Homo sapiens: one gene and its partner. The protein of the gene in region 2 purifies or fractionates together with the protein of the main gene of each other region. This does not show direct contact. Each region holds a gene or a part of one and is shown on either strand. Other genes may lie near its edges.

The links. Proteins that work in one complex are often made in the same cells at the same time.
Region 1: the proteins of TIMP2 (region 2) and ZMYM6 purify together in Homo sapiens (affinity purification with mass spectrometry; 3 studies listed by BioGRID and IntAct, with this or other methods). This does not show direct contact.

The regions. Positions count from the first base shown.
Region 1 is NC_000001.11:35,014,937-35,021,963, forward strand, and holds part of ZMYM6 (zinc finger MYM-type protein 6), read right to left. Parts: intron 5,532-7,027; coding exon 5,447-5,531; intron 4,667-5,446; coding exon 4,417-4,666; intron 227-4,416; coding exon 52-226; intron 1-51. UniProt on the Homo sapiens protein: Plays a role in the regulation of cell morphology and cytoskeletal organization.
Region 2 is NC_000017.11:78,866,379-78,873,405, reverse strand, and holds part of TIMP2 (metalloproteinase inhibitor 2 precursor), read left to right. Parts: intron 1-2,399; coding exon 2,400-2,508; intron 2,509-5,175; exon of another isoform or gene 5,176-5,432; intron 5,433-7,027. UniProt on the Homo sapiens protein: Complexes with metalloproteinases (such as collagenases) and irreversibly inactivates them by binding to their catalytic zinc cofactor. Known to act on MMP-1, MMP-2, MMP-3, MMP-7, MMP-8, MMP-9, MMP-10, MMP-13, MMP-14, MMP-15, MMP-16 and MMP-19.

The DNA.
Region 1 (7,027 bases), on a different chromosome or scaffold from region 2:
AAAAAAAAATCTCTTTCAGCAGAATCCCAATAAAAGTAAAATGTAACTTACATCAGCATTCTTCTGACACATACTGCACTTAGTTGAAATGCTTTTGGTATATATGGTAACAACAGGTTTTTTCTTTAGCTCATAAGATGACAAGCATGATTGGCTGCAGAAATCTTTGCTAGGATAGGAATTCTCAAAGCGAGTTGTGATCACATCCTTAGGATTTAAAATGTCTCTAAAAATAAATAACAAAGGTAAAAATGAAATGTATTCTTCACAACTGTAACTTCCTCCTCTTTGTGAGGTGAAATAACACTTACTAAGGGCAGGTACTGTATGGTAGAAAAAGGATAAGGAATCTGCAAACCTGGGTTTGATGAGTTCTGCTATTTATCAGGTGAGTGACAATGAATGATGTAATTACTATCTCAATTTCTTCATGTATAAAATGGGGCTTATAATATCTAATTCATAAATTTGTCAAGAGTGAATTATATTTAAAATATAGCCAGCCAGGGCCAGGTGCGGTGGTTCATGCATGTAATCCCATCACTTTGGGAGGCCGAGGTGGGCGGATCATGAGGTCAGGAGTTCGAGACCAGCCTGGCCAACATGGTGAAACCTCGTCTCTACTAAAAATACAAAAACTAGATGGGCGTGGTGGTGGGCGCCTGTAATCCCAGCTACTCGGGAGGCTGAGGCAGGAGAATCACTTGAACCCGGGAGGTGGAGGTTGCAGTGAGCCGAGATTGTGCCACTGCACCCCAGCCTTGGCAACAGAGCTAGACTCCATCTCAAAAAAAAAAAAAAAAAAAAATATATATATATATATATGTGGCCAGCCAGATGCTGAAGACAAAAATAGGAAGGCTTCCAGCCCCAACCAAGTTTCATCTGCTATAGCCAATGGGACCAGTGTCCATCCCACAACTCCAGACCACAAGACACTGGTTCTCTCATTAGCCAGAGGCTGCCCAAAGTAGAACTGAAATGAGACAATAAATGAATTTTTTCTTTCTTTTTTTTTTTTTTTTTTGTGAGACGGAGTCTCGCTCTGCTGCCCAGGCTGGAGTGCAGTGTCACGATCTCGGCTCACTGCAATCTCCACCTCCTGGGTTCAAGCGATCCTCCTGTCTCAGCCTCCGGTTCGAGTAGCTGGGACACCAGCACGTGCCACCATGCCAGGCTAATTTTTGTATTTTTAGTACAGACGGGGTTTCGCCATATTGGCCACGCTGGTCTCAAATTCCTGACCTCGCGATCCGCCTGCGTCAGCCTCCCAAAGTGTTGGGATTACAGGCATAAGCCACCGTGTCCAGCCAAGACAATAAATGAATGTTTAAAAATTAAAAGTGCAAGATTTTGAGAAACAAATGAGCTAACAGAAGACAAAAAATAAGCATGATATATGACAAAAGGGCTGTTAAGGCTTTGTATCAGAGGACAGATGGAAACAAGAACGAGACAGGAAGAACAAAAATAATTGGGTGGTTCTGTGAGACTCCTAGAGCCAATTTGTAAGAGCTAATTATTGCAATAAGCACAAATAGCAATACCCTGGTAAAACAGAGGTTAAGTATTGCCATTCTTCTGACAAGTATAAAAACTAAAGGAAATAGTCACTAATTATAAACACTAGTGCAGGCCACAAAGTAAATAATAATGGCAATAATATATACTACAATAAGTGTGTTGAGTAATTACTATGTGCCAAGCATTATTCTCTTTACTCAAATTACCCAATTTAAATACCACAAAAATGATGGAGTGCAGTGGCTCACCCCCATAATCCTAGCACTTTGGAAGGCCAAGGCAGAAGGATTGCTTGAGCCCAGGGAGTTCAAGACTCCAGTGAGCCATGATCATGCCACTGCACTCCAGCCTGGGCAACAGAGCAAGACCCGATCTCTATAAAAAAAATTTTTTAATTAGCAGGGCATGCTGGCTCATGCCCATGGTCTCAGTTACTCAGGATGCTGAGGTGGGAGGATTGCTTGAGCCCGGGAGGTAGAGGCTGCAGTGAGCTGGGATCACGCCACTGCACTCCAGCCTGGGTGACAGAGTGAGACCGTGTCTCAAAAAAAAAAAAAAATCCCCAAACCACTATAAGGTTAAGTATTACTGTAACTGCCACTTTACAGATGAGGAAACTGAATGAGAGGTTAAATAGCTTGTCAAAGTCATATTGCTAGTAGGCAATAAAGCTGAAATACTAATCCAGGCAATCTGATTCTAGTCTATGGAATTAATTATTCCACTATCCTGCCTCCCATCCTGCACCTTTATTATACAGGTATATTCAATGGTAAACCATGAGAAAATAACAACAACAAAAATTATTTTAATTCTTTAAAACTCAACTTTAAAAATATGACAGCAAATCTTAGAAACCAAAAGAATATGCTTATACACAGATGAAGTATTAATTTTGAAAAGTGATTTTTCTACTGAAAACAGAGCAATAAAGAGTTTCACTTAATAAGGTGAATCTGCCAGTGGCATAATAAGTACAAAAATAGCAAGTAAAAATATGTAAATCAAAGAGAATGACTTTATAATGAAAATCTGTGCACATAAATTATAAGTGTACTCTGAACCTTACACATGCAAATGAGTGTTATATCGTAACATTTACCGTAGAAAAACCACACCTTCCAACAATAACATAGCTCAAAACATTTTTCTAATTTTTTTAAGATAAAACTTAAGATAAACCCTTAGACTATTTTTTAACTTTTAATTTTATAAATATCATGTTTTAACAGTATGACTTAATTTAATTAGCTAATATATTGGCCTGATTAAGGTATCAAGCAGCCTTTGAAAATTTGTAAAAATCAAATGCATGCTGAAAAGATAAGAATCTGTCTCCTAACCTTATGCTAAAAAGTCACTGACGGGGGTGACTACTTTTAAGAAAACAATAGGCATTTGGATGTATAAGTTGTGTTATGTTCTTTAAAATTATTTAATTTTATTTTGGTATTTGGTATGTTGAAACAATATCTAAAAATAGAAAACTAAGTTTACTCTTTCAGATTAGTTTCATGAGAATGACATAAAAGCATTAATTAGAATGGTATTTTGCAACAAACTAATTTAGAGTATATAAATATTTTAAAATTCCTCTCTCCTGGCCACATGTGATGGCTCACACCAATAGTCCCAGCACTTTAGGAGGCTGAGGCAGGCTAATTGCTTGAGCCCAGGAGTTTGAGACCAGCCTGGGCAACATAGCAAAACCATCTCTACAAAAAAATACAAAAATTAGTCGGGCATGGTGGTATGCGCCTGTGGTCCCAGCTATTTGAAAGGCTGAGGTGGGAGGATCATCTGAGCCCGGGGAGTTCAAGGCTGCAGTGAGCTGTGATCACTCTACCATGGGCAACAAAGAAAAAAAAAAATCCTCTCTCCTCTTTACTTGGAAATTTCCATATAGCAGGATCTACTTTTAAATAGTTTAAGTCAAGACACAAAGCAGATAAACACAGCCAAAGACAAAATAGGGGCCTACAAGTGATATGTTAAGTATACATAGTAATATGTATTATATACACATATATTTATTATATTTATTTATGTTAATTATAAATAATCGCACGATATAATTTTTATTATTAATAATAACAGGATTCCATTTTTTAAGTACTTGCTATGTGCTAGGCCATTTGCTAACACTGTCTCATTAAAGTCCTAGGAAGCAACTATTATTTACTGATGAGAAATGGAGGCTTAGAAAGTTAAACATCTAGCCCGAAGTCACAGAGATAAATGACAGAGCCACAATTTAAAAGCAAGCTCTTACTGTTTTTTGCCTGTAGTGACTATTAACAACACACTGTATTCCTCAAATTACACTACCACAGAAATAGGCAAAATATGCCAAATCCTTCAAATGTACTAAGTCAGGGAAAGATTTATGTGACTTTGTTGCTGTTTTTTCCTCTCTCTGCATCTAAGCATTATTGTAAAGCAACAATGACCCCACAAGGACATTAGAAATAAACACATTTTTGCGACCATGTAGAGTTTTTACTTTTTAAAGAATTAAATAGCTTTTGTATACTATTAAAAGAGTGATATTATTTTATGCTATACCCAATAGCTTTCAAGATAACTGTTAAATAAATTTAAATGGTGGGTGTCTACAATTACAGGATAGTCCTGCAATTCCCACATGTCATTTGTTATTTCTTTCCATAGTAAAATTTAAAGTGATAGAAAACTGGTTTAGGCAATATTCTAACACCAAGTCACTTATTTAATGTTGCAAAACTTTAAAATTGGTGAATTCTTCCATTAACTAAAAAGTTATTTCTACAGATACATGCTGAAGAGATTTAAAGTATCAACAGTATGTTTGAACTAAACAATATACACACTAAAAAAAAGGTAAAGTAAAAAGGGATGTTAAGAATTTTATACTTCGAGCAGTTTGTGCAGGTTTTCTTGGGAGGAGGTGGCAGGCAGGCAGGTGAAGAATGTCTGGTGATGCATCGTGTGGAGCAGAAGAGCTGAGTAGATCCTGTCTTATGATATGCAGTTTGGCCCTTATAAAGCATTTTTTTACAACCAGAACAAAAAACCTTAATAGCAACAGCTGGAACTGAAGGAAGCAACACACTTGGGCCAGATGATGCAAAAGAAAGCTGAAAGCCTGGGTTCAACTGCTGGGCTATCAAAACAAAATAAAAAAAGTTTTAGTATCAATACTAATGCATATACAGTCTCAGTCTCTCTCTCTCTCTCTCTTTTTTCTTTTTCTGAGACACGGTCTCACTGTCACCCAGGCTGGAGTGCAGTGGTGCAATCAAGGCTCACTGAAGCCTCAAACTCCCAGGATTAACCAGTCCTCCCGCCTCAGCCTCTTGAGTAGCTAGGACTACAGGCACATGCCACCACACCCAGCTAATTTTTTTTTAATTTTTAGCAAAGATAAGGTATGTTGCCCAGACTGGTCTCAAACACCTGAGCTCAAGCGATCCTCCTGCCTCAGCCTCCCAAGTTGCTGAGATTACAGGTGTTAGCCACTAAACCCAGCCCAGTCTCTCTTTTTCAGGACAAATTCCCAATCTTGAAATCCAGTTAATGAGGCAATAAGAGCTCTAAAACAGAGGTTTCAATTTTTTTTTAACCATTACTCAACGCAAGAAATACATTTAATATTATAACCCAGTTCTCACATACATATGTTTGTAAACGTGGGGATGTATGTACAATTTAATCACTGAAACAGAAGTTTTATGAAACAATATGTTTCCTTACTACACATATCATATTCTGATATAATCTTACTCTATTTTTTAAAACGCTGCTGAAAACCAGCTACTCACAGTTTGAAAAAACACAGCTCTAAAGAAAGAGAAAGACATACATGAAAAGATGCTTTCCCTCAATTTTAAAAGTCAGAATAAGCAAATTAATTGTAACTAACTTATACAGTTCCATTTCTTACCAATAGGTCTCTCATTAACTGAAGACACACCACCAATTTTCAATTTACTTTCTTGAGTTTTTGGCTGTTGGACACATCCATACTCCTTTAAAAAAAAAAAGAAAAGAGAAAAGAGCAATGAATACAATGTATGTAAGTAAACTAGAAATTCAAGCAAAAAAAAATTATTCTATCCTATTCATCTCCTTTTTTTTTTTTTTTTTTTTTTGAGATGGAGTCTCACTTGGGTGCCCAGGCTGAAGTGCAGTGGCGCGATCTCAGCTCGTTGCAACCTCTGCCTCCCAGGTTCAAGCGATTCTTCTGCCTCAGCCACCCGAGTAGCTGGGACTACAGGTATGTGCTACCACACCCAACTATTTTTTGTATTTTTAGTAGAGACAGGGTTTCACCACATTGGCCAGGCTGGTCTCGAACTCCTGACCTTGTGATCTACCCACCTCAGCCTCCCAAAGTGCTGGGATTACAGGCGTGAGCCACCACACCCGGCCCTATTCATCTCTTAAACAGTCTAATCATAAATACCTTCACAAGCACCTCAAAAGTCAAAATTTACAAGTTATTACACTAATCTTTACAAAGACAATCTTTCAGAATTAGAGAATCTTTTAAAATACTTTTATCTACTTTTCAAATGAAATTTTGATATATGGGAGTAATACATAGCTATTCCAAATGCTGAGCACTACCTATTTTTTAGGTAGTGTGTTTAAAAGGGGGTAATAAATGAAAAAAAAAATTTTTTTTTTTTTTTGACATGGAGTCTCATTCTGTCACCCAGGCTGGAGTTTCATTCTGTCACCCAGGCTGGAGTGCAATGGCGTGATCTTGGCTTACTGCAACCTCCAACACCCAGGTTCAAGCGATTCTCCTGCCTCAGCCTCCCAAGTAGCTGGGAATACAGGCTTGCGCTACCACACCCGGCGAATTTTTGTGTTTTTTTCCAGTAGAGAAGGGGTTTTGCTATGTTAGCCAGGCTGGTCTGGAACTCCTGACCTCAGGTGATCCGCCCACTTTGGCCTCCCAAAGTGCTGGGATTACAGGTGTGAGCCACTGCACCCGGCAAAAAGGAGCAATAAATGAAATTAAATCTGGCTGGGCGTGGTGGCTCACACCTATAGTCCCAGCTACCCAGGAGGCTGAGGCAGGAGAATCACTTGAACCCGGGAGGAGGAGGCTGCAGTAAGCCAAGATTGTGCCACTGCACTCCAGCCTGGGCAACAGAGCGAGCCTCTGCCTCAAAAAAAAAAAGAAAAAGAAAAAAAGAAAAGTTAAATCTGAATGATTTAGAGTTTGGATTTCAATCATTTTAGATTTACAAGCTGCCTTTTCTGTTAATGGCAGAAAAGATACAAGAGTGTCAATGCAATCTGCTCATTATACATAAAATCATCACAGACAAAATCCTATTTATTCTTACCACATTCTTTAAAACGTTTTAAAACAAAATGTAATCATGAAACATTTTTAAAATGTAAATGCCTATCTTTATTCTGAAATTGCAACCATCCTTTTTTTTAATGTTAAAATACCCTTACATATTTCAAAACAGGAAGTTTTTTAAAAAGTCTTACTTTTCTGAAT
Region 2 (7,027 bases):
TCGCTTAAGCCCAGGAGGCAGAGGTTGCAGTGAGACATCTCACCACTGTATTCCAGCCTGGGTGACAGAGTGAGAGCTTGTATTAAAAAAAAAAAAAAAAAATATGTGGCAGGGAGGGCAGGGAGGGCAGGGCCTGGCCTGGGGCAGGAGAGGTGATGCTATTGTCATTGACAGTAACTAACATGGTCTGTAAGAGAGACGAAAATTCATGTCGCAGGTGGAGGGACAGCCGTGTGATATGGTGGTAGTTGTAGTCATCGATATTTAATTTTGTCATTAAAAATAAAAAGTAAACCAGGCACAGTGTCTCATGAGTATAGTCCCAGGTGAGTGGATCACCTGAAGTCAGGAGTTCAAGACCAGCCTGGCCAACATGGAGAAACCCCATGTATCTACTAAAAATACAAAAATTAGCTGGGCGTGGTGGCGAGTGCCTGTGATCCCAGCTACTTGGGAGGCTGAGGCAGGAGAACACTTAAACCTGGGAGGCAGAGGTTGCCGTGAGCTGAGATTGCACCACTGCATTCCAGCCTGTGCGACAAGAGCGAAACTCCATCTCAAAAAAAGAAAAAAAAAAAAGTAGCTGAAAATCAATGTTATCAGAAGGTCAGTGGAATGCTTCATCATCACATGTATGTCAGTTTAAGGGGATGACCTAGTCTCTCAGTGCCTGAGTCTCTTTCTTTACGAAGCAGGAAAGAGGATCTGCTCTTACGACCTCATAAAGGGGTCGTGAAAAGGCCAGTGCCAGTGCCCAGGAAATGCTTTTAGCCTTTTGGCAAATGATGTCATTTAGTACAGCATCAACATAACCTTTCCTGGTACAAGCTGGAGTGTCACTCTCAAGCCATTTGTCATGACATCAGGCATGCTTCCATTCCATTTGGGTTTGCTTATTGAAACTCTTCGGGGGGAAAAAAACAGCCTCCCTGAGTGCTGAGAAAATGCCATTCTTCACCTGGGCAGCAGGTGCGTTCCTGAAAGGCTGTGAGTAAATCACATGTTGAGAAAGCAAACTCTTCTGGCCCATGGAGTTATGTCCTAATTCCTGAGGTGCCTCTCTGCTCTCATTGCCATCAAGTAGACAATATTTGACCAAAATTCCTGGAAATATAGGTTGGGTGGAGTGACTTATGCCTGTAATCCCAGAACTTTGGGAGGCCGAGGCAGGAGGATTGCTTGAGCTCAGGAGTTTGAGACCAGCCTGGGTAATAGAGCGAGACCTCGTCTCTGCTAATTAAAAAAAAAAAAAAGCCAAGCATGGTGGCATGCGCCTATAGTCCCAGCTACTCGGGAGGCTGAGGTGGGAGGATCACTTGAGCCTGGGAAGTTGAGGTTGCAGCCCCAGCCTGAGCAACAGAGTGAGACCCTATCTCAAAAAAATAAAAAATTCCTGGAAATATGCAAAAGTCATGGTCCTTCATGGTGGTCCAGAGTCACGTGGAGGTACAAAAGCCCCTCCCCATAGATTCAGAAATGACCTCTTTGGGGTGGGGGGTGAGGGAACAGAGGTGTTGTCTGAGGATGTCATGCTCCAGATGACAGTCTTTTTTTTTTTTTTTGAGATGGAGTCTTGCTGTCTCCCAGGCTGGAGCGCAGTGGCACGATCATGGCTCACTGCAAGCTCCGCCTCCTGGGTTCACGCCATTCTCCTGCCTCAGCCTCCCGAGTAGCTGGGACTACAGGCGCCCGCCACCACGCCCAGCTAAATTTCTGTATTTTTAGTAGAGACAGGGTTTCACCATGTTAGCCAGGATGGTGTCGATCTTCTGACCTCGTGATCTGCCTGCCTCGGCCTCCCAAAGTGCTGGGATTACTGGTGTGAGCCACTTCGCCCGGCACAGATGAGTCTTGTGCTCACCTGCTGTGATCTGCCACACTAAAAGTTGAGTGACTCCAAAGAATCACTTTGCTATAAGAAGTCTTTTTCTTTTCTTTTTTTTTTTTTTTTTTTTTGACGGAGTCTTACTCTGTCATACAGGTAGGAGTACAGTGGCGCCATCTCAGCTCACTGCAACCTCCACCTCGCAGGTTCAAGCGATTCTCCTGCCTCAGCCTCCCACATAGCTGGGATTACAGGCGCTTGCCACCATGCTCAGCTAATTTTTGTATTTTTAGTAGAAACAGGGTTTTGCTACGTTGGCCAGGCTGGTCTCAAACTCCTGACCTCAAGCGACCTGCCCACCTCAGCCTCCCAAAGTGCTGGGACTACAGCCATGAGCCCTGAGCCCAGCTGGAACGGTCTTTTCCTAACCCATGTATTTGCACTTCCTGGTCCTCTTGGGTGCTGGCTGTACCCCAGCTACAGGTTGTGCCGCCCAGGGTGTTCTGGATGGGAACGGAATTCACCAACTGTGTGGCCTCCCTCTGCTTACATGTCCTCCTCCTTGTCTTTCCAGATGTTCAAAGGGCCTGAGAAGGATATAGAGTTTATCTACACGGCCCCCTCCTCGGCAGTGTGTGGGGTCTCGCTGGACGTTGGAGGAAAGAAGGAATATCTCATTGCAGGTGTGTATGAGTGGGGCCATCAGCCGGAGGCTGGCACAGAAGTGGGGCTGTTCCTAGACGCGGTCCAGGGCTCGTTTCCCAGGCTCGGGGGGTGGGGAGGCGGAGTAGCTGAGGAACAGTGAGGCAGGGTACGGAGCCCTCTCGGCCACTTCCCGTCAGAGAATGCTAGTGAATGTTCACTACCTGCCAATTTCCTGGGAAATTTGAGATTGGTGGACAAAAAAAAGGGAGCATTTTTGCCTTTTGTTCCTAAAAGGGAGGCGAGTGCGGGATGCTGGAGACATGCAGGGCAGAGAAACCCTTTCTGCCGTCGGGAGGGCCAAAAGCTCGCGTAACATCTGTGGATACTATGCACGAGACCTGCTTGACTTATTCATTCATCTGTCTCCTTTTTTTATTGTGGTAAAATAATACGTAACAAAATGTAGCCATGTTAATTAACCATTTTCTTTCTTTCTTTCTTTCTTTCTTTCTTTTTTTTTGAGACAGAGTGTCGCTCTGTCGCCCAGGCTGGAGTGCAGTGGTGCGATCTTGGCTTACTGCAACCTCCACCTCCTGGGTTCAAGCGATTCTCCTGCCTCAGCCTCCCGAGTAGTTGGGATTACAGGCACACGCCACCACGCCCAGCTAATTTTTGTATTTTTAGTAGAGATGGGGTTCTACCGTGTTGGTCAGGCTGGTCTCGAACTCCTGACCTCAGGTGATCCACCCACCTCGGCCTCCCAAAGTGGCAGGATTACAGGCGCGAGCCACCGCGCCCGGCCAACCATTTTCAAGTGTACACTTCAGTGGCATTAGATACATTCGCTATTGTGCAACCATCACCACCATCTGTCTCCACATCTTCCCAAACCAAAACTCCGTCCCCGTTAAACACTAACTCCCCCTTCTCTCTTCCTCAGCCTTGGCCCACCTCCATTTTACTTTCTGTCTCTGTGGATTTGACTACTCCAGGGGCCTCACATGGGTGGAACCCTGCAGTGTTTGTCCTCTCTGTCTGGCTTATTTCAGTAGCATCATGTTTTCAAGGTTCGTTCACGTTACAGCATACATCAGAATTTCCTTACTCTTTTTTTTGTTTTTGAGACAGAGTCTCGCTCTATTTCCCAGGCTGGGGTGCAATGGCACTATCTCGGCTCACTGCAACCTCCGCTTCCCAGGTTCAAGCGATTCTCCTGCCTCAGCCTCTCAAGTAGCTGGGATTATAGGCACACGCCACCACACCTGGCTAATTTTTTTTTGTATTTTTAGTACAGACAGGGTTTCACCACGTTGACCAGGCTGGTCTCCAACTTCTGACCTCAGGTGATCCGCCCACCTCAGCCTCCCAAAGTGTTGGGATTACAGGCGTGAGCCACCACACCCGGCCCAAAATGTCCTTACTTTTTAAGGATGAATAATATTTCATTGTATGAATGTAGCACATTTTGTTTATTGTTGCATCTCTTTGTTTATAGTTTTTTGGTTTGTTTTTTTTTTTTTTGAGACAAAGTCTTGCTCTGTTTCCCAGGCTGGAGTGCGATCATGACTCACTGCAACCTCGATCTCCTGGGGTCAAGTGATCCTCTCGCCTCAGCCTCCCAAAGTGCTGAGATCAACTACAGGTGTGTGCCACCACACCCAGCTAATTTTTTTATTTTTTGGTAAAGAAGTCTCACCATGTTGCCCAGGCTGGTCTTGAACTCCGAGGCTCAAGCAATCCTCCTGCCTCAGCCTCCCAAAGTACTGGGATTATAGGCGTGAGCCACTGTGCCCAGCCTATATTTTTATTCCTAAGTAAAATTATTTTCCCTTACTTCCTTCTACGGCCTCCTCTGCTTGCCCAGCTAGGCTGAACCACAGGAGGCCAGGACAGGATTCTCAATCTCAGCACTATTAACATTTGGGGATGGACCATTCTTTGTTGTGGGGGCCTACCTTATGCATTATAGGATATTCAGCTGCATCCCTGGCCCCCACCCTCTACATGCCACAGCACCCGCTCCAGTCGCGGGGTCTCTGGACATTGCCACATGTGCCCAGGGGAGGTGGGGTAGATTGCCCCTGCTTGAGAACCACTGGGCTCAAAGAGCTTTCTGCAGTGATGGAAGCGGTCTCTGCACCATCCAGTCCAGCAGCCCCCAGCCTTGTGGCTCATGAGCACCCGAGATATGGCTAGTGCAGCCGAGGAGCTGCATTTTAAATTTTATTTCATTTCAAGTAATTTTAGTATAAATGTAAACAGCCACATGTGGCCGGCAGCCGCAGTCTAGCATGGCACTGACTCAGCCAGTTAAGGAACATTATTCCCCTCCTCCCTGGGGAAGTAGGAATCTGATCACAAACTTAAGAAAAAAAGAATAGACAAGGCCTGGTGCAGTGGCTCATGGCTGTAATCCCAGCAATGTAGGAGGCTGAGGCGGGCGGATTGCTTGAGGTCAGGAGTTCAAGACCAGCCTTGCCAACATGGTAAAACCCTGTCTGTACTAAAAATACAAAAATTAGCTGGGCGTGGTGGCAAGTGCCTGTAGTCCCAGCTACTCAGGAGGCTGAGGCATGAGAATCATTTGAACCCAGGAGGCAGAGATTGCAGCAAGCTGAGATCACGCCACTGTACTCCAGCCTGGGTGACTGAGCAAGACCCCATCTCACAAAAAAAAAAGAGAAAAGAAAGAAGAGACAAGACAATTCCCCTAGCCTGGTACTATAGTTTGTTCCAAAAGGCAACTGTAATCATAAACATATACTCCAAATCCAAATATCCATGATTGGGGGATTTTCTTCTGGTTTAGGTGACATGTACTTTTTTCCCTTCTAAAAATCAATGTGTGCTTAGTGAGCACCTGTTAGGTGCCCAGCCCCGTGTTAGAGACAATGGGAGATTCCCACGGTGAGATCCTTGGCTCTGGTCATCATGGAGCACACAGATGTTCCGAATGGGGAGACTGGAAAAGAAAGAAAATAGATTTTGCTTGTGGAGAATTGTGAATAGTAAGTGAATGCTTAGAAGGTGCAAAAGGGGCCGGGCGAGGTGGCTCACGCCTGTAATCCTAGCACTTTGGGAGGCCGAGACGGGCAGATCATGAGGTCAGGAGATTGAGACCATCCTGGCTAACACAGTGAAACCCCGTTTCCACTGAAAATACAAAAAAAAAATTAGCCGGGCGTGGTGGCGGGCGCCTGTAGTCCCAGCTACTCAAGAGGCTGAGGCAGGAGAATGGCGTGAACCCGGGAGGCGGAACTTGTAGTGAGCCGAGATCGTGCCACTGCACTCCAGTCTGGGCGACAGAGTGAGACTCCATCTCAAAAAAAAAAAAAAAAAAAGAAGGTACAAAAGGAAGAGAGACTCTCACAGGTCCAAGGGTCTAGACAGACTTGCTGCTGGAAGAAGGTGGTGTCCTTGCCTATGGATGGGGAGGAGGTCATTGCAGGGAGGAAGATGCAGGGCTGTGAGTTGGGCAGGGAAGACTCCTGTTATCTCCCCTTGGGTAAGATCTTCCCTCCCTTCCTTAACATGCTCACAGCTCCTGCTTTGCTGGGTATCTCGGTCATCAAGACTTCTATCCCTCTCCTTGGGGATAATAGGAGACTTCCCCCCCTTTTAAGATGCATTTCTGGACTTCCTAAAATGTTTTATTATGAGCACTTTTCTTATTCTCATTCCAAGACAGAGTCTCCCTCTGTTGCCCAGGCTGGAATGCAGTGGTGTGATCTTGGCTCACAGCAACCTCTGCCTCCTGGGCAATTCTCGTGCCTCAGCCACCCAAGTAGCTGGGATTACAGATGTGTGCCCCCATACCTGGCTAATTTTTGTATTTTTAGTAGATACGGGGTTTCACCATGTTGGCCAGGCTGGTCTTGAACTCCTGACTTCAGGTGATCTGCCCGCCTAGGCCTTCCAAAGTGCTGGGATTACAGGCGTGAGCCACCGCGCCCGGCCTACAATTCAGTGGTTTTAGTATGTCACAGAGTTCTGCAACCATCACTACAGTCAAAAAGAAATCCTGTATTCTTGAGCTATTACCCTCCTGACTCCCCTCCCCCTCCCCCAGCCCTAAGCAGCCACTGGTATACTTCCCGTCTCTATAGATTTCTCTATGCTGGGCTTTCCTGGGAACGGAATCATACGTGTGACCCTGTGTAACCGGCTTCTTTCGTGTTTCCAAGGGTCATCCATGTTACAGTGTGTATCAGAATTTCATTCCTTTCTATGACTGAGTATTCCACTGTATGGATAGACCACGTTTTGTTTATCCGGTCATCATTTGATGTGCATTTGGGTTGTTGCCACCGTTTGGCCATTGTGACAAATACTGCAATGAACATTGGTGTGTGAGATTTTGCAGGGACCTGTTCTCATTTTTCCTGGGTGTATCCCTGGCAGTGGAATTGGTGGGGTCGGGGGTGGGGAGGGGTTGGGTGACTTTAGGTTTAACCATTTGAGGAGCTGGCAGACCGTTTTCCAAAGCAGCTGCACCATTTTACACGCCCAGTATTATCTATGATTTTTACAATAAGAAAAAAAAAATCAAATGGAGAA